Homo sapiens: one gene and its partners. The protein of the gene in region 2 interacts with the protein of the main gene of each other region in a biochemical or structural test. Each region holds a gene or a part of one and is shown on either strand. Other genes may lie near its edges. The genes, in order: RAB33B, RIC1 and RGP1.

Region 1 (7,349 bases), on a different chromosome or scaffold from region 2:
AGGAATGGATTAGCAGATATAGGCTTTCTTAAATTTCATAAAACATTTTAACGGATTCTGAAAGGGCACTGTTGTTAAGTCATGCTTTCTGAAAATTTTCTAGTCCATGATTATCAAAACATTTAACGCAATATCTCATTTTTATCAAAGAAATAATGTCTAGAATGGCATTTTACTAGTAAAGTAATAGAGCTTTCCAGCTTTGAGATGAAAAATTAGGAAAAATGTCATTTTAGATCAGGCTACAATTTTCCAAAGACGTAATATGAACATTTCAGCAGCACTCAAGATGTATTACAGGTTAACCAAAAAGCAGCAGAAGCAGCACATAGAATAAAGCTCTTTATATCACTTTTCAGTTTTCGAAAAAAAGGGCACTAAAAAAAATTAAGCTCTGTGGTTTTAAAAAATGCCCAACATAGCTATATCTTTTCCTACTATAGAAACCTCAGAACATGTCTGTAGTCATTTCAACCACAATAAAAATCTCTCTCAAGTCTCACCATTGGTGGCACAAATCAACGGCTAGGGCCTTAGAAGAAAAATGATCTCAGTATTCAAGTCCATATCAATGTAACAAGTTAGGCTAAAGTTCAGTAGAAATAATCTCCCCAAAAAATATCATCTCCTTGCTCTTCCCAACCAGAATTATCAACTCTGTGCTCCCAGATTCGTCATACCTGTGGTTCTGTCTTATTTATCACTGCCAGCACTCACCTCAGTAGTTAGGTAATTGACTTTATACACTGCACATGCTTTATATTTTTTCAATACTATTATCTCTTAAATTTGCACCTGATTCATCTGTTATCTTTAAGTATAAATGGCAACCCAGGAACAGATAAAGGGCCCTCAAATCCCAACTCCTCCCCCACCCTCATTCTCTCCACTTTTGAAAGAATTTCCTACTTCCGTTTTTGTTTTTGTTTTGTTTTTTAAATTTCTCTCCCCTTAGCTGTCTACCTATGCCCTCCACTATCTCTGCTTTCAACTTTGGGTGTACAACTGCAGAACTAATGGTGGCAAACAGGAAAAATAATGTTAAGCCACCAGGAAAGACAAAGAATCTTTTTAAAGGCACCAACTATGAACCAGGTGCTTCATATATGTCCTCATCTGATCCTCACAGCAGCCTGATAAGGTATCATGATCCCAGTTTTTCGGAAGAAAAATACAGACTCTGAGAGGTTAAAGAATCTGCCTAAGGTCCAGGGTGACCAACTATTTTGGTGTGCCCAATACAGGGGGTCCCCGGGATGTGAGACCCAGTTTTAAAACCTGGACAGTCTTGGGCAAAGTTGGTCACCCTAGTAAGGACACGCAGCCCATCCCTACCCTTTCGTAGGTTCAGATATGAATCCAGGTTAGTTGGGCTCCAAAGCCCACGTACTTCCCAGATTCCTGCTTCTCCCAATCTTAACTCCCTTGGAACTTCAGAAGCTCCATTATTTTTCACCCCAAAGGCTTCTGGGCCAAACCTAATTCTGGTGAAAAATGTTTAGCCTTTTATTCTATCTTTTCTTCTGCAAGTATACAAATCTTTCTAAATTCCCTAATACAAAGCAACTCCAAAACCACCACTGAGAGCTCATATGGGACATGAAATACTAATGTGAAAAATTAAAAGACAGAAGCACCAAAGAAAGGTTAATTTCTTTTAACCCAGCTTACTTCACCTCTACCATCATTAGCAGTATAACCCGTTGGGGTGGGGGGCGATGATTAGGGAACTGAAAAATAAATTGTTCTTGCCTCTAAGATACGAGGGTAGGAACGTCTAAAGCAAGCCTGTTCTCCCACCACTCCCCATCCCCACCAAGAGACTGAGATAAAGACGATCGCTGATTTAAAGCAGTAGTATAAGGCAAGGTGGTTCCACCTATGTTTTAAGGAGTGGCATCAACAGGTGGCATTTAGTGGTGGCTTGCTATGAAGGTGTGTCTAAGGTTTATACCATCAAGAGGCCTAAGCCTTGTCATTGATCCTCATTCCACTGTTAGATTCCAACCCCTCAGAACTTCAAACCTGCCCTGGGGCCTATACTACCTTCTCCACTATTACTGTCACTCAGTGTCCCCAGTCCCAGGGACCAAAAATAACGACTTAAAGGGAATAAAGAATTGGGCGTGTGTCTGAGGTGGCATCATGAGAAATGCTTTTGGCAACCTGAGTAGGAACTATCACATATAGAATGTTTCTGCAGGAAAATAGATTTTTCTAAAATCAGTATCATAAAGAAACTACTACAGCAAAACTGTATGCAAGAGAATACCTAAGTACTTCCTCAAAGGCAATAGGCTTTACTTCCACAACATCTAAGGCACTGCTCGAATGAATGTTTAATAACTATTACTGATTAAATGAATTTTCCATTCTCGCGCAATTTCACTGTTTTTCCTCCGTTCATATTTGACTGACTCCCAGCACACGACACACACAGTAAATGGGTCGGTAGATAAGCCCTACACTCCTGAACTCAAAGTGTGGTCCACGGACTAGCTGCACCTGCATCATCAGCGAGATTATTAAATCATAGCCTGCATTTTCAAAAACAAGATCCCCAGGTAAATCGCATGCACAATGAAGTCTGAGAAACGCTGCCTTAGAAGTTTGCAGTATTGCAATCCTTCCAATCCCCAACTCCAATCTCATCAGCGTGAGAAAAAAATGGAGCGCACACACACCGTGCACACGGCCAGCGACCAGCCCACGGTGGGGTTGGGACACCTGTCACCCTGTCCTCCCCAACAGTTCCCCATCCGCTCACCTTGATGCGCTCCCCATCAATCTCCACCGCTCGTTCTCGGAAATCCACCCCTATCGTGGCCTCGGTGCGGTCGGGGAAGCGGCCAGCGCAGAAGCGGTAGGTCAGGCATGTCTTGCCCACATTGGAGTCGCCGATCACGATTATCTTGAAGATGCGGGAGCGGGCAGGAGGCAAAAACCCTGAGGCCCCTGACACTGCCCCGCTGGACGAAAAGCTTGCCTCGAGCGACGACTCCATCTCCTCAGCCATTCCCCCGACCCGCCCCAAACTGAGGCGGAGGAAAGGAGACACAGAAAGGCTGAGAGATTACGCCACCGCAAGAGCGCGCGCCCAGCCGGCCAGTTCGGCTGCGCAACTTCCCAGGAGCCACCGCCCACCAGCCCCGAGCGCGCCTGCGCACCTTCCCGCCCCGCCCTTGCCCGCACAGGTGTGGCACCCGCCCGCCCCGCCGCACGGAGCCGCCTGCCCGCGGCCACACGCCAGGCGTCACTCGGGCTGGCGCCGGTCTACCTAGGCAGGCGTGGGACCTGTCGGGGGCTTCACGGCAGCGCGGAAGGCCAGCCTGCAGAGAGGCTGGGCCCAGCGCCCTGACTGACCCAGCCCCGCCACGTCCAAGGTTCCCGCCCTCTGGAGGAAGCCGCGCAATCACTCCGGGGGCGGGGAGAGACAGACAACTGAGAGGAAGGAGGTACCACGGGCACTCTCTCGCGAGAGGGCCGCAGAGCCGCCTTTGACGGGGGCGTGTACCTGGAGAGCAACGGTAAGGACGGAGCCGACGGCTCCGGCGTCGGGTCGGTTCCGGCATCGACGTATCGTTTGGTCGCCCCAGAGAGGAGACAGGTTTCTTCAGCTTGCCGCTGAGGATGTGGCATCGGCTGCGCTCACCGCCGCCGCCTCTGTGAACTGCGGGAGTTGGGACAGCGGCCAGGGCTAGATGGGTGGGACGCGAGTCCTCGCCGAAAGCTTGCCCTGTGCGGGGCGCACTTGGAGGCGAGCTCTGGGCCGTGGCGAGTTTTGCAGCCTAAGGTCTTGGCAGGCGCATTGCTGTGGGCTGCCGGAGAGCAGGCTGGAGTTCGAGACCGCCCACCGGAGAGCAGGCGAGAGTTCGAGGCCTAGGTACAGCGCATTTCGCTAGGCATCCCCAAGAATATCCGCGTGATCCTTGTGGCCAGAGTTTGTTGAGCTAATATCCCCAGCCCAAACAGTAGAGCACATCACATGTCGGCCACCTGGGAGCGTTGAACCTGGTAGTTACTAGGCGCCCCTGGTGGAAATAAAACTCATTATGCCCTAGTTATGTCTTAGTGCCTGGGTGACGATGATGTAGCGGTTAAAGATTAACTGAGCGCACTTAGAGGTTGTCTTTGTCTACCTAAGGAAAATATCAATAGATTAAACCCCCAACCTTAAAGAATCTCCGTGAATTTTTCTGAGGAAACGTGCAATATTGTCATACAAAAGGCCCCAAATATGCAAACATTGCTTTTTGTTAAAAGTTTGTTTTGTTTTGCAGTGACATCTGTTTGAGCAGATGAATATGCCATTGGGAAAGTCAAGGACTGTCGGAGAGGAGGACATGGCAGACCTTAACTAAAGTGAGGGGGACAGTAGAGCACTAAAAGTTCTAGGAAAGGAGATGAACTGCTTATTCCATCAGATGAAAATATAGTCAGAACAGATGAGTAGTAGAACTTAAACATGCCCGGAGTTGCCAGGAATTTGCAAAAGCCTTGATATAATTCCTGTTGCTGTAGAAAGACTTTCTACAGTCACTAATATATCAAGTTATGTTCACTAGAAAAAAAGTTTACTTAGTTTATAGAAATGGGCTGAAAAATCCTAATTACTTATCTGTGAGGTTATTTTCATGAAGGTTAATCATCCAGAAACTATTAGAGAGCCTCGGAATATATTTCTTCTAATCTGCTCTACCTATCCCATTCAAAGGAGGGAATCTGAAGATTTAAGGACAAAGAGCAGTTGAAAACTCAGAGCTGTGGTTAATGGGAGAATTTCAAGGATGGTGAAAAAAACTAACATCATTGCATCCCTGTTTTTTGTATTCTGGACTTTTTAGTTTAGCTCTTGGTAAACTACATCAGAAATTCTTTATGCTAACTCTAACACACATTTTGGGGTATTGCTAATTTAATCTTTGAATACTGTTTTTGCTGTTTCATGATTATATGTTATGTCCTACCAGCTAGATTGCCAACTCTTGACTACTGACTGGAAGTTTATTGTTTATTCAGCAAATAATGAATTAAGTCAGTGAAGTGAGAGATTTCGTGTGTAAGGATTGTTAACTTGAACATTTCACCAGTTACACACAGTTCAGCCCTACTTAAATTTTAAAAATCATTGTTGGCACTTGACATTGTTATGAGGAGTTTTGTATTTTCAACTTGTATTTTGAGAGTGTCCTCATGTGACTGAAGTATGTGCTACTCTTCTTAATTGAATAACCCCAGAATCTCCAGAATTGATAATTGGAGGAAATTCTACTGTTGGAAAGAATGGATGGATTATACAGCCCTGTTTTTTGACTGTTCATTTTGTCCTTGGAGTCACTACCACTTGGCCTCAAAGTGTGAACATGTAACCCTTTCCTTAATACTTTGCTACACAGCTGAGCAGAAACTGTAAATTTGGATCCTTTGTCAGTACAACTTAAAATGGAACAATTTCAATGGCTTAGGGTAAGATAAGTATGTAAAGATACTTTTGTAATAGAAGAAAAAACATTGGATATTAAAATCACACAGTAGTACCTGGGTGTGGTGGCTCATGCCTATAATCCCAACGCTTTGGGAGGCCAAGACAGGAGCACTGCTGGAGGCCAGGAATTTGAGACCAGCCTGGCCAACATGGTGAAACCTCGTCTCTACCAAAAAATACAAAAATCAGCCAGGTGTGGTGGCACATGCCTGTAATCCCGGATACTCGGGAGGCTGAGGTGGGAGAATCGCTTGAACCAGGGAGGTGGAGGTTGCAGTGAGCTGAAATCGCAAAACTGCACTCCAACCTGGGCAACAGAGTGAGACCTCCTGTCTCCAAAAAAAAAAAAAAAAAAAAAAAAAAGTGGGTGTGGTTGTGTACACCTCTACTTCCTGCTACTCAGGAGGCTGAGGCTGGAGGATCTCTTGAGCCCAGGAGTTCAAGTCTGCAGTGAGCTATAGTTGCACTGCTGCACTCCAGCCTGGGTAGCACAGCGAGACCCCCATCTCTAAAACATAAAAGTAAACAGGCTGGGTGCAGTGGCTTACACCTGTAATCCCAGCACTTTGGGAGGCCGAGGAGGGTGGATCATGAGGTCAAGAGTTGAGACCAGCCTGGCCAACGTGGCGAAACCCCATCTGTACTAAAAATACAAAAATTAGCCAGTCGTGGTGCCAGGTGCCTTTAATCCCAGCTATTCAGGAGGCTGAGACAGGAGAATCGCTTGAACCTGGGAGACAGAGGTTGCAGTGAGCCAAGATCATGCCATTGCACTTCAGCCTCGGGGACAAGAACAAGACTGTGTCTCAAAAAAAAAAAAAAAAGTAGAAAACAGAATAGCATAAGGATAATCTTATATACAAAATAAGACTACTCAATTTCTGAATTTTTTTTTTAACTAGATATGCCACCTCCTGATGACAGTGCCCATTTCGTAACTTGTCTTACTCAGAAACAGCTCTTAGATAATTTTACTCTTTAAGTTCAGGTCTGAGCACAGAGGACAAAGAATTCCCTTGATTGCCTATGAAAGAAAGGATTCTCAACCTTGGCACTATTGACATTTTAAGTCAGATAATTCTTTGTTGTGGAAGGTTATCCTGTGCATTGTAGGATGTTTATTTTATCAGCATCCCTGGCTTCTACCCAGTAAATCCCAGTAGCACCCCACCACCAACCAAAACTGTCTCAAAATGTTGCTAGATGCCCCTTGGGGACAAAAATCCTCTCCCTCCCTCCTCCTTGAATGCCACTGGCACTCCTTGAGCCTACAGAAGGGCTCTTCTCACAAGTTTGATACCCTGTACCTCCCAGTTGATAGTGGGAATTACTTCTCCTTTGAAGACACAATTCCAGTTACCCTGAGAAGTATGGCATTGGCCTTGCTGGCCTCCACCAAATTACTATATCACTGTGTTTGGTAACCCCAGACATCATACTAGGGCTTTAATTTCAGTATATAAATAGTAAATTAGTATCCTTGTATAGGTTAGCTTAATGAGTTTCAGAATTCTTCAAGTCATATCTTCATAGGTAGGATCACTGTGGAGTTAATGGCATTTGAACTATGTACTCAGTACTATGCTAGTGGTTGGTGCAAGGGGAAGATACAAAATAAGGTGTGATTTTAGCCCATGAGGAATTTATACTTTATCTGCAGAAGCAAATTAATATGGAACCGTTAGTGAACACCTGGATAAAACAGAATGCTAAATTTTACCCTAGAGGTGCTTGGCCTGGACTTCAAGAATTCTAAGTGAATTGAAGTATGTTCACAGTAAGAAAGGTTAAAAATGGCTCTGCCCACTTGTAGGCAGATGGGAAGCTAGGATGGCAGACTTGCCAATATTTGATATATGTAAAA
Region 2 (7,109 bases):
AACTGAGTTAAGTAAATTGTTGAAGATCAGCAGAAAAGGAAGAAAAAAAAGGGAGGTTTGCCTGACTCCAAAATAGGTCAGGTCTGTCTCCTGTTGCAGAGTTTTCTGAGGATGTGACTAGAATCTTTGCTTTGGGCAATAGCAAGTAGTAAAGTTCTGCTGCACATTCAGAATCCTCCATTTTTCTTTCACAAATTTAACCTGCCTATCTTGGTCTTTATGGAAAGGTGCCTAATAGACAACTGTAATTGTAATTATTATCTGCCAATCCATAGCAACTTAGGAATTCTGTTGCAGAAAAAAATTACATTGTCAGGGAGATACAGTGAAGTTGCAGGGAGTGACCCGGAACCAAAAAACAGCTGCATTTATTTTGATTCTATTTTTAAAACCCTATGTCTTTTTCTTTAGGGTTAGCCATGGAATCATACTTCAAGGCCACCTGGCCTCTGCTTGAGTGTCTCCTCTGGTTTCAGTTCATTGTCATGAAGCAAAGAAGCTGACAGGAAATCTGCTTCAGGCAGAGATTGAAACCAGGTTTATGGTTAGCTTCTTACATCAATGGAAACAACTTTGCAGTAACTGGAAAGAATCTTTAAGTGTAGCCTATCAAATAACCAACTGTCAAGCCCTTTTGTCAAATAGCTAATGAAATAAATTTTCAGGAGTTGCAAAGAAGCCATTATTTTGAGAAAAACTGTGTGCTATGAGGGTCTTTGCTGTGGCAGGCCTGAGCCTTCTCAGCTTGCTTTGGGGAAGACTAGCTCAAGGTGCTCTGTTATGACCATGCTCTAATAAGTGTCCCCTCAGTAACCCACACTGAAAGGAAACAAATCTACTGTTGTGAGAAGCTCAAACTCACTAATATCTCAAATAATACTTTCTTTGCTATGTTTCTTATGTAATATTTCAATAATCTTATGTAATATTTCTTCCATGTTCCTATTACATGTATTCTAATATACATATTAAATTTCTTCAATATATTAAAATTTCAAAACACTACTCTGAACTCATTAATCTGTTTTAGGCCTATTTATGGACAATGGAAAAAATATCTCTGCAATGTTACTTTATGATATTCAAAGGAATCTGTCTGAATTCTTCCAAATTAAAGATATAAACAGAAAATTTGACTATGAATTCCTTAAACACAATCATGGTGTCAAAACAGGACATTTCTATTTTTCTAAGTTTAAGCTCATTAATTCTTGCCCCTTTATAAGAAGAGAATTGTTACCTGTAAGATAATAAGGTAAGAGGCAGCTGTGTCCAAATCCTGAGCCATCAAACACTCCTCAAACAAGTCCTTAGGGTTTCCAACAGCTGCAAAAAGGTAATTCCACAGGGCATATTCGGTCTTCCTGGCACAATGGACAACTGTCTGCAGGAAGAGGGGGAACTCAGTGATAAATTTTGCCACAGTGGGAAGCAGAGGGTCGGGAATGGGCTCCCGTGAGGTAGCTTCTTCTTCCAGTACTTCATGGAGCATGAGCTCCAGCACATGAGGGAAGTAAGGTAATGTGGCACAGGACTGGGCCAAGAGCAAGGCTTGCTCCCCAAGGTTTCTGACCAGAAGTTGACGTAGAATGTGGTGGAGGTAGATCTGAGAGGTTCTCTCCACAACACAGAAAGGGAAGAGCACCTCCAGCTGTTCTCTAGCATTGTTCCGAGTATATAAAGAATCATAGAGCAAAGTGTCATTGACAGCACCAAGGACTAAAGCATCTTCAAACAGAACAGCTAGCGGGTAAATGTTGATGTGGAAAGGCAGCATGATCCGCTGGGACAAGAAGGAATGGGGCTTGCGGTGATCCCTAGGGAAGAGAGGGAGCCAAACTTTCATCCCTGCACCACCACAGCTCAGCCAGAGGGCCTCCAGAAGGTGACGTTTCTGTTTATTTGCTCGACACGTTGTCCAGACATTTTCAACAGACTGGGCTAGTACAACAGGAGGACAGAATGGCAGCTGGAGAAGGAGAGACAAGAATCAAGTTGTTTTCCTATTAAATCTGCAGGTTCTTAAGTTCCTAGGTACTAGTTTACTAAGTCTTTCAAATGATAGTATAATATTTTTTTGGGAAAAGCAAAGGGATCTAATTAGAATTAGAGTTAATAAAAGTATCCTGGCCTTTTAAAGTATATACACTTAAATCTGAAAACAAAACACCCCATGAACTTCACCAGTCTATCCCTATTTTTTCCATTAGAATTTGCAATGAATGATGCCTAAGCAGTTAACATATGGAGTATGGAACATTTCATGATCATTTTGGGACCTTATCCTCCAGTCAGTCAGTCTTACACCCAGAGGCTTAAGACTGATTTTATGGACTTAATTTCTCCTTTCCAAATCATAAAATACTCTTCTCTTAAATTGTTTCATTCCTTCATCCTCATCCCATACCTTCTTAATGTTTGAAAAGAAATGACTAGTACTTTACTCACAAGTTTCCTTTGGTTATTAGGGTTACTGTCCTTCTCCCGGATCTGTGGGCCTGACCTGTCCCTCTGCATCATGATGAGCTGTCCTGCCAGGTTTAACATAATGCTCTCTGCACCACGAGCCTGAAATTTAAGAAAAAGCAGCTAAATTCATACTTCTGTATCGGTATGCTTTCCGCATCTCCCCCCAATCCATAAGGTTTATAGGTCAAACAATCTACATTATTTATTGAGGTTGTACTATGTACAGCCATTCTGCTAGGCTCTGTGGGAATATAAGGAGCTTTCTGGCTAGGATGGTACAAAGCCTAACACATAATGCAATTAATGAACACCACCAGTGACATAAGATTGAGGGCAGAGTTGAATTATCCTGAAAAAGCTAAGACAACTTTAGAAGTTTATAAAAATGAGAGATCACTTCAGTGATCTAGCTGTCATAACAACAGAAAGTTTAAAAGGATGCAGTGAACCTGACAGATGAGGAAGACATACACGTGTGGGAGAGTAAGGGTTGGTAATCTAATGGAAAACGAAGACATGGAACTATTGGGAAAGTGAGAACAGTCTGGCTAGACTAGGGACATTATGAGAACAAAGCTGGATGGTAACAGACCTTCAAGGAGGATTCAGAAAGCCAGGTAAAAGAGCAGCAGGAAAGAAGCCACTACTTATGGTTCTTGAATAAGACAGTTATTTAAAAAATCAGAGTTAATCAGGATAGGTTACTGAGGAGAGGCAGATTTCATGGGTGTTGACTTCAGAAATGAGGAAATAGTCTGCCTTTTTATAATGAAAAATTTCAATCAAACCTCAGAGAGCCTAGTATAATGATTTCCAATTGAGCCCTATCACGCAACTTAAACCATTATGCACATTAAACTTTGAGCAGCCCTGTTTTAAAAGGAACCTCAGATATCAAGTCATTTCTATCTGTAAAGAGGAAGGAACATTTTGGTTAAAAAACAGAACTTACTGCTATCCTAGACATGAAAGGTAGAAAAAGAGATGAACCAAAGATGATTTCCAGGTTAGCTGAGGTGCTAGAGAAGTTGAAGTTATTATCACTGATAGAAGACAGGAAGAGAAATTAGGGAAGGGAAAACCAAAGAGTTTCCCTTTTTCTTTTTGGCTCATTTAATTTGAAAAAATAAAAAAAAATTCTTAAGAATTCCAAGTAAAAATGTGAGCAATCACTAAATCAGAGACGACTGTACCAGCATCAGAAGCTTAAAGGTGAGGCTGGGCCAGGCTGGGCGCAGTGGCTCACACCTGTAATCCCAGCATTTGGTGGGAGGCTGAGGTGGGTGGATCACGAGGTCAGGAGTTCAAGACCAACCTGGCCAAAATGGTGAAACCCCGTCTCTACTAAAAACACAAAAATAAGCCGGGCGTGGTGGCAGGTGCCTGTAATCCCAGCTACTTGGGAGGCTGAGGCAGGAGAATCACTTGAACCCGGGAGACGGAGGCTGCAGTGAGCCAAGATTGCACCATTGCACTCTAGCCTGGGTGACAGAGCAAGACTCCGTCTCAAAAAAAAAAAAAAAAAAAAAAAAAAAGGTGAGGCTGGTAAACTGAAGGAGACAGACAGATGTTTCTCAGGCACACTAGCCAGGGTAAAAAGAGCAGCGGGCCATCACCTGAGCTTTTGGAAGACAAAAGAGAAATAGGGAAGCACAATGCTATACATGCTATATAAACAGAAGGAAAGAATTTCAGGGAGGAAAGAGTGAGTATTCAAAACTTGTGGGATTGTGTCCCAGGCTTTGCTGCATGCTGGCTGGCTGAATTTAAGCTACCAATGATCATTTAGGGTTCATCAAGAAAACAGCAGCCACCCTATATATTCTAGTTGCAAAATACTTGGCTATACAAACTACTCTTGCTTACTGCTTTCAGATTCTACAGGGGATTATGTATAAAGAAATGACTAAATAAAAAAATTGGTTATCTATCCAGAAAGTAATTTGGAGGTATGAGAAGTGAACATGGAATTTAGGTGTGTGGCAACTAGAAGAGTCAGACACCTGGATAACAGTAAAATGTAGCTAGATGGCAGAGGAAAAAGAAAAAGACAAACACCTGCAGCAAAACAGCATGACTGGGAACTGCATACACTAAAACACTTCAAAAGACCTTAAAGGCATTTACTGTAATTCACCACAATATGAGTAATGTTTATAATGACTACCTTAAGTTTTAAGATGGTAGATTTCACCACATTTCATACTAATTCATTAAAAAAGTACACTTCTCTTTTCTTCAGTGAGTGGGTATTATCAGTATCCTATCTTAGTATTCAACACTTTCTGATAACGTTAAAGATGACTGCAACAGCACTCTCAAGCAACTTTAATAAAGCTTTCAGAAAAAGCAAGGGCTACATGTATGCCCAAAATCCTAAATTTGAAGGAACCCCAAACTCAATCTCTTACCCTAAAAAAACCCCTGGCAGATGATTCTCTATGAGAGTTTCAGTAACAAGGAGCTCACTCTCATGGAGAGACTATCTTGCTGTTGAAGAGTTTTCACTGTTACTACTATTTTTTTTGAAAACTTTAGTATTAAATGAAAACTTACTTTGCTCCAGCATTCTTTGTCTTCCCTCTATGGTAATCAGTCAATTTTAACTTCTTAATCTGCTCTAGCCAAATTAAGCACCTTCTCTTTGTGAAAGGCCCTCTCAAAATATGGTATCCAGGACTACTGATGCCACTGGTTGCCTACTCTATCTGGGATATATAAGAGTCCTTTTTTAAATATGAAAACTTTAAACATGATTAAAAGTATGGAGAATAGTATAATGAACTTTCACACTGCCATTATCCAGATTCACAATTATCAAGATTTTGCCTTATGTGCTCCATCCATCCCTTATTTTTTTTTCAGTTTTGTCAGAATATTTTCAATTAAGACATGCTACCCATTTTACTTCTACATGTTTAATATGCATTCCTAAAATATATGGGCATCTGCTAACATAGCTACAATGCTAGTATCACATCCAATAAAATTTACAATTATTCCCTACTTTCTCTCTCCATTAGTATTTAAATATCCCTAATTGTTTCAACAGTGTCTTTTCATAGCTGATTTGAATGAAGATACAAATGAGCTTACTGACTTGGTTCTGCAGGGTAGTGATTATCACATTTGCCTCACAAATGACTTTTAACCACTGCATTTGGTTTTTATGGCTTCAAAGTCTTATTTAATCTAGAAGATTCACTCCTTCTTCCCCCATGTTAGTGACTTGTAGCTGTCCAACAGAATGTCTTGTATTCTGCTCCCTTGTGGTAGGGAAGATGACTCTCTATACTTGATTTGATTTGGGTTCAAGATTTTTGGCAATAATTCTTGTGAACTTCATGTTATATCACCTCAAGAAGCATACCATATCTGGTTTTCCCATTTTTAGTGATAAGACTGATTAGTTCCTCAGGACTGCAAAATGATTTTTAAATTGTCACTTTTTTTCACACCTTTTATCTAAACTTCTGTAAAACAGTATATTCCCTTATCAATTAGGACTAACTGGTTACCATTAAATAAGGTTTGCAGAGGAAATGGGAACTATATTTTAAAGGAGAAAACCAATTTTACCTATAGAAGGGAGACCAAGGCCGAGCACGATGGCTCACGCCCTTAATCCCAGCACTTTGGGAGGCCGAGGTGGGCAGATCATGAGGTCAAGAGATTGAGACCATCCTGGCCAACATGGTGAAACCCTGTCTCTACTAAATATACAAAAATTAGCTGGGCGTGGTGGCGTGCACCTGCAGTCCCAGCTAGTTGGGAGGCTGAGGCGGGAGAATTGCTTGAGCCTGGGAGGCAGAGGTTGCACTGAGCCAAGATTGCACCACTGCACTCCAGCCTGGCGATAGAGTGAGACTCCATCTCAAAAAAAAAAAGAAAAAAGGACAAAAAAAAAAAAAAAAAAAGAAGGGAGACCAAGATGCTTAAGGGGTCTAGAATAAACATCCAATGAAATAGTTGGACATATGGAAGTATTTAGCATGCAGATAAGATGACAGAGAGGTTTGAGGAGAGAAGGAGAAGCCAAGGAATGTTAACTGTCTGCAGATATTTTACGGGTCATCATGTGGAAGAGGGACTAGCTTTTACAATGTCTTCTACAAAGAATAGAGAACTGGGATAGAAGGTAACAAAATTGATTTTAGATTCATATAAGTAATATTAAATTCCCCATAACTGGATAGTCTAGTCTAGTCTGTTTTCTAATTATTTTATGGAGTGTTGAGGTTTGATCGAAGTGCCTCGATAGGAAGTAAAAGACAGACTGCCCAGACAGGGATGACAAATAAATCCACATAGAATTTTCCTCTGACAGTAGGTTCCCAGTTGACATGAAGTTTAGAAACCACTGAAATAGAAAGTTATGCAACGTGGGTCCTGGTCGCCCTACTTCTTACCCTGTTACTTTACCCAGAAACTACGGGATTATACTTTCTCTTTCCTCATAATTAACTAATTATAAAGCCCTTGCTATTCTATACTCATTCTACTTCTTTCCATATCCTTTTTCACTGCCCAAGTTCAGACTGTGAACACCACTGACCTAGATCATTACAATGACCTCCCAGTTGCTCTCCCTACAGTAGTTTTGTCTTACTTCAGTTCATTTTCCTCCTTACAGTAAACAT
Region 3 (6,908 bases), about 30 Mb from region 2:
CCTTCAACCTCTTCCTGTTTCTTAGATGCACTGACCCCTAAACTCCTAACAGCTTGATAGAACTCCTTCCCCACACCTACCTACTAGGACCCTGTGATACACTGATTTTTGATTACTTCATGCTACCTAGACTTGACTGCCTCACTCTTAGGTTATTAGGTACTTAATACTGCTATCTTCAGCTCACATCTGTGGTAGTACCCATTGCTTCAGAAAAACCCTTAATCACAGCTCCCTGCCCTGTGACTTTTCCCTGTCTTCCTGAACACAGATTGTTTTCTTCTCATTCACTAACTATATCCTGTCATTGGCTTTTACTCCTGCTAGCTTCTGATGCTTCTACCTTAATCTTTTTCTTCCATAGTGTCCTTGAAGTGGAGATTGCATTTTGAATTTGTAACGTCCCGAGAACCAGGATTGGTACTCCTACCCCCTGTGGAACAGCCCGAACCTACCACCTGGACAGGACCTGAGCAAGTACCTGTAGACACCTTCAGCTGGGACCTGCCCATCAAGGTGCTGCCTACTAGCCCCACCCTGGCCTCATATGCTGCCCCAGGCCCCAGCACCAGCACCATAACCATCTGAAACTGGCCCACCCTGGTGCTAGTTCCTTCCGGATACTGAGAACTCAGCACCTGGACTCTAATGGGACCCACTTTTTCCACCTGGGGTCCAATGTCGTGGACAGTGAGAGTCGGGCTTTCAGCTATAGCATTAATTTATTTGTTCAGAATACATTGGCAGCTGCTAGTGGTTTCCCTGGAAGTGGCAGCAGCAGTGAGCAGTCAGCAGATGGATGATCAGTTGAGTTTAGCTGGAGTGGGGAGCAGGAGCCCCAGGAACAGGGGTGTTGGCTGAGCCCCATTCTGGGTCAGGCCCTCCCCCTTTGCAGGGCAGCCGAGGGTCAGATTTTTGCACCAAGGAGAACTGGCAGGTTCCTGCCTCCTGACGTACCTCACACCCAGCCGGGAAGTCGATGGGATGCTGGGACCTGGGGAACCAAGGATAGGGGAAGGAGTCAGCACAGTGAAAGGCTGCCTTTATCCCTGCCCACATGTTCCCTCTCTCACAGTTTTCCCCCCACAGAGCCCCTTTCAGTGGCCCCTTGGTCCTCCTAACTAAGCTGTCACCTACCATATGTGGGCCTTTTTGTTTTATAACAGGAGTATTTTCTCTCCAGGTCCACCCCAACCTCCCCTGATTTATAGCCTGAAGCCTTATCTTTCACACTAGTGTTGGTCCCTTCAGGTTTGGCCCATCTTGTATTGCTCTTCTGTTCATTCTTACATCACAGCAATCTAGTCACTCCCTGGTCATCCCTCAGTCACTCATATCAGAGTCATTCTCTCTGGCCATCTTTGGTCACTCACGTGTCACAGCAGCCCACGCCAACAGGATGCAGACAGGTGCAATGGAAACAGTCCTTGCGGAGCCAAGACTCACCCAGGGTAAAATATTTCCCCTCATAGTGACAGGGGGCTAGGGAAGAACGGGAAATGTTAGTAGGTGTAGGAGTGCTGATGAGAGGCAGAGGCTCTTCTGGTCTGGGGTGGAGACAGTAAGTACGCACTATCCCCGTATTTAGTTTGTCTTTCCTGTTTCACAGCTGGAGGAAGCCTGGGTATTTTGACACGGGATCATCTGTAAGGCCCCATCCTCCCTGTGCCCTCTCTGCTGCTCCTCCATTCCTAACGCTTCACCCCACTTTACCTTGAGCTTGGAAGTAGCACTTGCTGTAGACTCCTGGGTGCTGGAGGAGTAGAGACATCACCAAGCAGATGATCCCCCAGCCTCCTAGGATCCCCTTGGCCTGTCCAGCCCAGAGCATCCTTAGGGCCATTGCTGCTGCACAGCCCTCTCAGACCCTTCTTGGCCTCTGCTCAGCTACTCTGGTCTTGACTCCTTGACTTTGCTTTGCGTTGCTCCTTGAGTCTTAGTTTCTGTCTTTCTCCCCTGGGCTCCTGTCTCACACTATCTCCCTGCCCTCTGCTCTCACAGGCTGGGGATGTTTATAAAGTGAGGACCCTGGCCCCCTGCTGAGTAGAGCTGGAAAAGTTGTAACTCTGTTTCCTGAGGTGAGGGCATGAAAACAAGAGGTCTAGCTTTAACAAGCTGTGAGAGCTGATTCATGCCCCGGCACAGCTAGAGGGAGGGAGGTGGCCATGGAGGGGGCACTGGACTGGGCACTTCCCCAGCAAGGAGGCAGGAGGGGCGAGGGCCCCCAGGTGGTCCCCAGATCTCTTCCCTGACCTGGAGAGAAGGAAGCATTCCACCTTCCCCCTTTCTCCCCCACTGCCACCACCAGGGGTGTGTATGCTGGGATCCCTGCCTGGACCGGAGGGAGGCATTTCCTGGGGATGGTTAATCCTGTGCCCCAGCCAAACCCAGGAGCTGCAATAGGGTGCGACGGCCAGAAGCTCCAGGAGAGTGAGCAGGCACCTGGAGTGGAGACTGTGTTTCCCTCAGATCCTAGGGCAGGGTTTCCCTAATGTATCCAAGAAATAGGGCTGCCCCTCAGAGATGGTGGGGAGGGTCTCTTTTCCTCAGGCATTCCAGAGGTGAACTGTCCATTGCTTATCACCTTCAAACATACAGCAGATGTGGGATCACCCCACATCTGGGGATGGTTCTTTCCCCTTTCAAAGAGGAGCATCTCTAAGTGCCCTGATGGGATGAATCACTCCAGGTTCACAGAGGTGTCCTCTCTTTCCTCCCATATATAATGGAGTGAGGTTTTTAGGAATTTATCATTTGGCATCCTCTGAGTTTCCCACAGGTTCTGGAGGAGCCCAGGATGGATTATTGAGAGCATGGGCTGTAGAGACAGTCTTCTTGGATTCAGATCCTGACTCCACTTAGCTATGTAACCTGGTCAGATTACTTCACCTCTCTGAGCCTGTTTCCTCATCTATAAATTGGGGATAGTAATGCCAACTCATTGGGCTGTTATGAGGATTACTGAGATAATGCGTGCAGTGCTCTTATCACCATCTCTGGTGCGTAAGCGTCAGGAAATAGCAGTTGCTGTGATTGGGGCTAAAGCTCTGAGGCAAAATGGGCGACATTATTTTCTTTGAATGACATTAAGCAGTTTGTGCATAGCTGAGGGCTTCTATTGGGGATGGCTGTCTCCTGGCATAGACCTCTGCACCTTTCACACTCATACTCCTTGTCAGCAGTCCCCAACCTTTTTGGTACCAGGGACCGGTTTTGTGGAAAACAATTTTTCCACCAGTGGATGGAGGGGGATAGCAGCGGGGAGATGATTTTGGGATGAAACTGTTTCATCTCAGATCATCAGGCATTAGATTCTCATAAGGAGTGTGCAATCTAGATCCCTTGCATGCGGAGTTCACAGTGGGGTTTGCACTCCTGTGAGAATCTAATGCCTCTGCTGATCTGCCAGGAGGAGGAGCTCAGGCGGTAATGCTCACTCGCCTGCCGCCCACCTCCTGCTTTGTGCTCCCGCTTCCTAACAGGCCACAGACTGGTACTGGCCTGTGGCCTGGGGGATGGAGACCCCTAATCCATGTCACCTTTCCCACCTCTTTCAAAAACAGGTACCTCCAGGAACATTTTGGTTTTGGCCCTTGTATTGACTTCTGAATGTCTAGTTTGAGAAACTGTTCCCAATAAGCCTTCTTCCCCCAGATCTGCACCCTCGCCTCTACCCTAGGACAAGATGTCCTTTTCTCATCATCCTGCCAGGCTAACTTTAAGTCTCCTGCTTTTTCTCACTTGGATTTGGATCCATTTCTTCCTATTTCCGCTCATGTGAACTCTCCAGTTCTCCTTTCTCACCACTCTCCTGCTAGCCATCTCTTTGGCACTAAAGGCCCTGGTCAAATTGGATTTCTTTCATTTTTCCACACTTCAAAGACCCATGTTCTAGGTATTCTCCATAGGGATAGTCTCTTTGGCATTTATTTGGTTTTTCTACGTTTTCAGTCCCATTTACTCCAAGACTCACTCCCTGCCACCTAGTGCATCAGATACAGCTACTTCTGGCTGACTTTTCAAGGGGGACCACCCTACCTGTCATCTCTTCACTGTTCAGAAATGACTGTGTCAGTGCACCTCAAACTCCCTTGCTGTCCTTTTCCAAGGAGACAGCTAAGGTGGATGGAGATGCAGAATGGACCTCACGTTCGCCCTAGTCAGGACTGATACCCTTTCCGTTTCAGAGGATTGCCAAGAAAAAACTCACAGTTGAGGCAGGGTGCTCTGAGGTCGGCTGCGGTGTGGGAGGCACGGCCTGGGCCTGCTCTCTGGGCTGGAGCAGGTGGATTCGAAGGCCTGTCTAGCACGAGGGCCCAAAGGTCTTGTCAGTGGCCAGTAGCTCTGCCGCCTTTCCCAGAGAGGGGGTCCAGGGGACATCCTGGAAGGCTGGGCCCTGGGCCACCTTCTGCTCTTGCAAGCTAGAGCCAGCCCAATAGGGGGCGGATGTGAGTGGGGAGCTGGGGCGCATGAAGGTGGGGGTGATGCCGAAGGGGAAGGGATCGCCAGTGGGGATTGGTGCGTGTGCGGAAACGGGGACAGAAGTGAAGGTTCATCGCCTATAACGAAGATGAGGTAGGCATATAGGGGCTTCTGGAAAGCTAGAGGCTGGGCTGAGCCAGGAGTCCTCTCCCAGAAGTTGGGGGGCGGTGCAGAGGTGTGGGTCGAGCCCGCATGCGTGCCTGCTGGGGAGGGGGTGAGTGGTGAGGACCAGGCCCGCTGGGTCCTGGGGGCGCGGTGGCTGGCGCGCAGGTCCCGGAGGGGGCGGCTGGCGCGCACTACACGCTTGGGAACAAGGAAAACATCCGCCGGAGGCCCGGCCGGGCGGCGCTCCAGCCTCGGGGCAGGTGCGCGGAGAGGAAGTGAGAGCATTCCGGCCCCCCCACCCCAACCCCGGCCGCTGGCCCTCTGGTGAGTCACAGCCGACCCCCGCCGCCGGAGGGAGAGGGGAGCTGCGGGCCAGAGCCCCGGAGGGTCTGGAGGAGCCAGGAGGGTTTCTGGGAGCAGAGGGTCACTTAGTGGGCTTCTGTCGTGGTGTCGCTACGGGCGCGAAACGGACACTGAACACAGTCTGACTGTATGGAGGCAGGTGGGGAGGGATCCCCTGGGAGAACTTGGCGGGCCGAGAGCAGACCCCAGGGCAAGGAGGGGCCCCCGAGGGGGAAACCGGGAGTCGGGCAGGTGGCGTAACCCAGAAAGGGAAGGAGAGCCGGATTGATTGGGGTGAGAGAGGAAGGAAGCACGCCAAGTTAGGCCTGGGAGAACTGAGGGACCTGAGGAGGGAGGAGGGAGACCAACACAGGGTGGGAAGGCGGAAATGGCCAAACCCCAGGCATCAGGTCTGTCCAGAGGCTGACGTAGACAGTGAAGGGTGAAGGGTAGGTTTTAGGAGTAGGGGGAGTTATGATTATTTGGTTACATTTTGGGATTATTTGGTCTCACAGGTAGAAGGGAGCCTGCTGGTCTCTGTGTAACGGATGGCTTAAAAGCAAGGTTGTCTGCGTCTTGGATTACTGTCTGCCATTCAGCCTTTGCCAAAAAATTTGGCACTGATCTGCACATTTTTATAGTCATTTAAAATTGTATGACTCTGTCAAATGATTTAAGTAATTTTGGTGGATTTTTAAAAATAAAAAAATAAAAATAGAAAAGTTGCACAATCTAATTCAATATTTGACTTAAAACCAAAAGTGAGGCTCTCAGATTGGTAATATGGTATTCAGCCTTTTTCTTGTTTGGCTTTTGTGCCATTTGCCCCTCACTGACTTGATTGAATTCTTTGTGGCTGATGCCTCAGTTTTTCTGGATCAGTAGTGCTGCACTTCCACTTTTCCTCTCCCTCATTTTACTGTCTTTATTTTTAGCCTTTTTTCTGTGTAGCCCTCTAACCTGCCCTTTATATTTTGAACCAAATAAAACATTTCTTGGAATGGGAGCTTTGGACTACAGTATACAGACAAACAACTCACAATTTTAGCATATGAGGCTACTATCTTCTGTGGATGTGTATGTAATTATACAGTTTCTGTATTTATCCTGTGGCTGATAGAAAAAGTTAAAGCTGTTTAATTCACCATAGTATTTCTACAACACAGCAATTTATTAGTCTGACTTCTCTTCTAAAATCAACTCTAAAATGGTATTTTGTACTTGTCTCAGAGACGAATTCTGCCATGATCCTTATGATCTGTGTTATGTTGGGCCAAAGGTGATTACTTTATAAATTATAAAGATCCCTAAACTCTGCATTGCCTTTGGTCCCAAACAAGCAAATCTGGGTCAATTAATGAAAAAAAAAAGAAAAGAAAAGAAAATGTCTTACTTTGGGCCCTGTTGCACTCTCCCGTGCTGTTTTAGCCCCAGCCCTACTCTATTCCCAGTGGCCTTTGCCTTCATTCCTTCTTTGCTCTGCTGGGCATCTTGAGAGGAAAACTTCACACCGACTTCCTCTACTATAAATTCTCTCCCTCCTCTCAACTCTACACTTCTCTTTGCCAACATACACCACTACTGCTTCACTGATTTTTTTTTTTTAAGCCCACAGTCCTTTCTGGCTCTTTTCCACCTTTAACACTCTTATGTTGAAATCTTCCGTTTTTCCTCCTTTCTCTTTAGTAAGACCTCAGGTTTTTAAAAAAGCTAGGCTTGATTGTTTATTCTGCATGGTCCACTTCTGCCTTCCTTCCTCTTCTATTACCCTTTTCTTATTCTAGACTGTTTTTAAACTCAGTTATGCTTGCTTTCACCAAAGCCTTAACCTTTCCTGTGATTAGAAAAAGATGCTTATGTTTCCATTACTTTTCCTACAAGAAAACGCATTCTCAAATTCATATCCACTTCAAACTCTCCCAACGTTTTGCATCCAGAAGCATAAAGTGGCCATTATTGTGAAGTCCACTGAGTGACCA

Evidence for each region.
Region 1: the proteins of RIC1 (region 2) and RAB33B form a complex in vitro, tested with the Homo sapiens proteins (one study listed by IntAct).
Region 3: the proteins of RIC1 (region 2) and RGP1 form a complex in vitro, tested with the Homo sapiens proteins (one study listed by IntAct).

Annotation. Positions count from the first base shown.
Region 1 is NC_000004.12:139,449,863-139,457,211, reverse strand, and holds the start of RAB33B (ras-related protein Rab-33B), read right to left. Parts: upstream 3,092-7,349; 5' UTR 3,036-3,091; coding exon of another isoform or gene 3,017-3,035; coding exon 2,768-3,016; intron 1-2,767. UniProt on the Homo sapiens protein: The small GTPases Rab are key regulators of intracellular membrane trafficking, from the formation of transport vesicles to their fusion with membranes.
Region 2 is NC_000009.12:5,758,000-5,765,108, reverse strand, and holds part of RIC1 (guanine nucleotide exchange factor subunit RIC1), read right to left. Parts: intron 2,569-7,109; coding exon 2,449-2,568; intron 1,970-2,448; coding exon 1,241-1,969; intron 1-1,240. UniProt on the Homo sapiens protein: The RIC1-RGP1 complex acts as a guanine nucleotide exchange factor (GEF), which activates RAB6A by exchanging bound GDP for free GTP, and may thereby be required for efficient fusion of endosome-derived vesicles with the Golgi compartment.
Region 3 is NC_000009.12:35,752,287-35,759,194, forward strand, and holds the end of RGP1 (RAB6A-GEF complex partner protein 2), read left to right. Parts: intron 1-364; coding exon 365-588; 3' UTR 589-813; coding exon of another isoform or gene 814-994; 3' UTR 995-1,373; coding exon of another isoform or gene 1,374-1,482; 3' UTR 1,483-1,713; coding exon of another isoform or gene 1,714-1,843; 3' UTR 1,844-6,299; downstream 6,300-6,908. Other genes in the region: MSMP (prostate-associated microseminoprotein precursor), read right to left, coding at 814-994, 1,374-1,482, 1,714-1,843. UniProt on the Homo sapiens protein: The RIC1-RGP1 complex acts as a guanine nucleotide exchange factor (GEF), which activates RAB6A by exchanging bound GDP for free GTP and may thereby required for efficient fusion of endosome-derived vesicles with the Golgi compartment.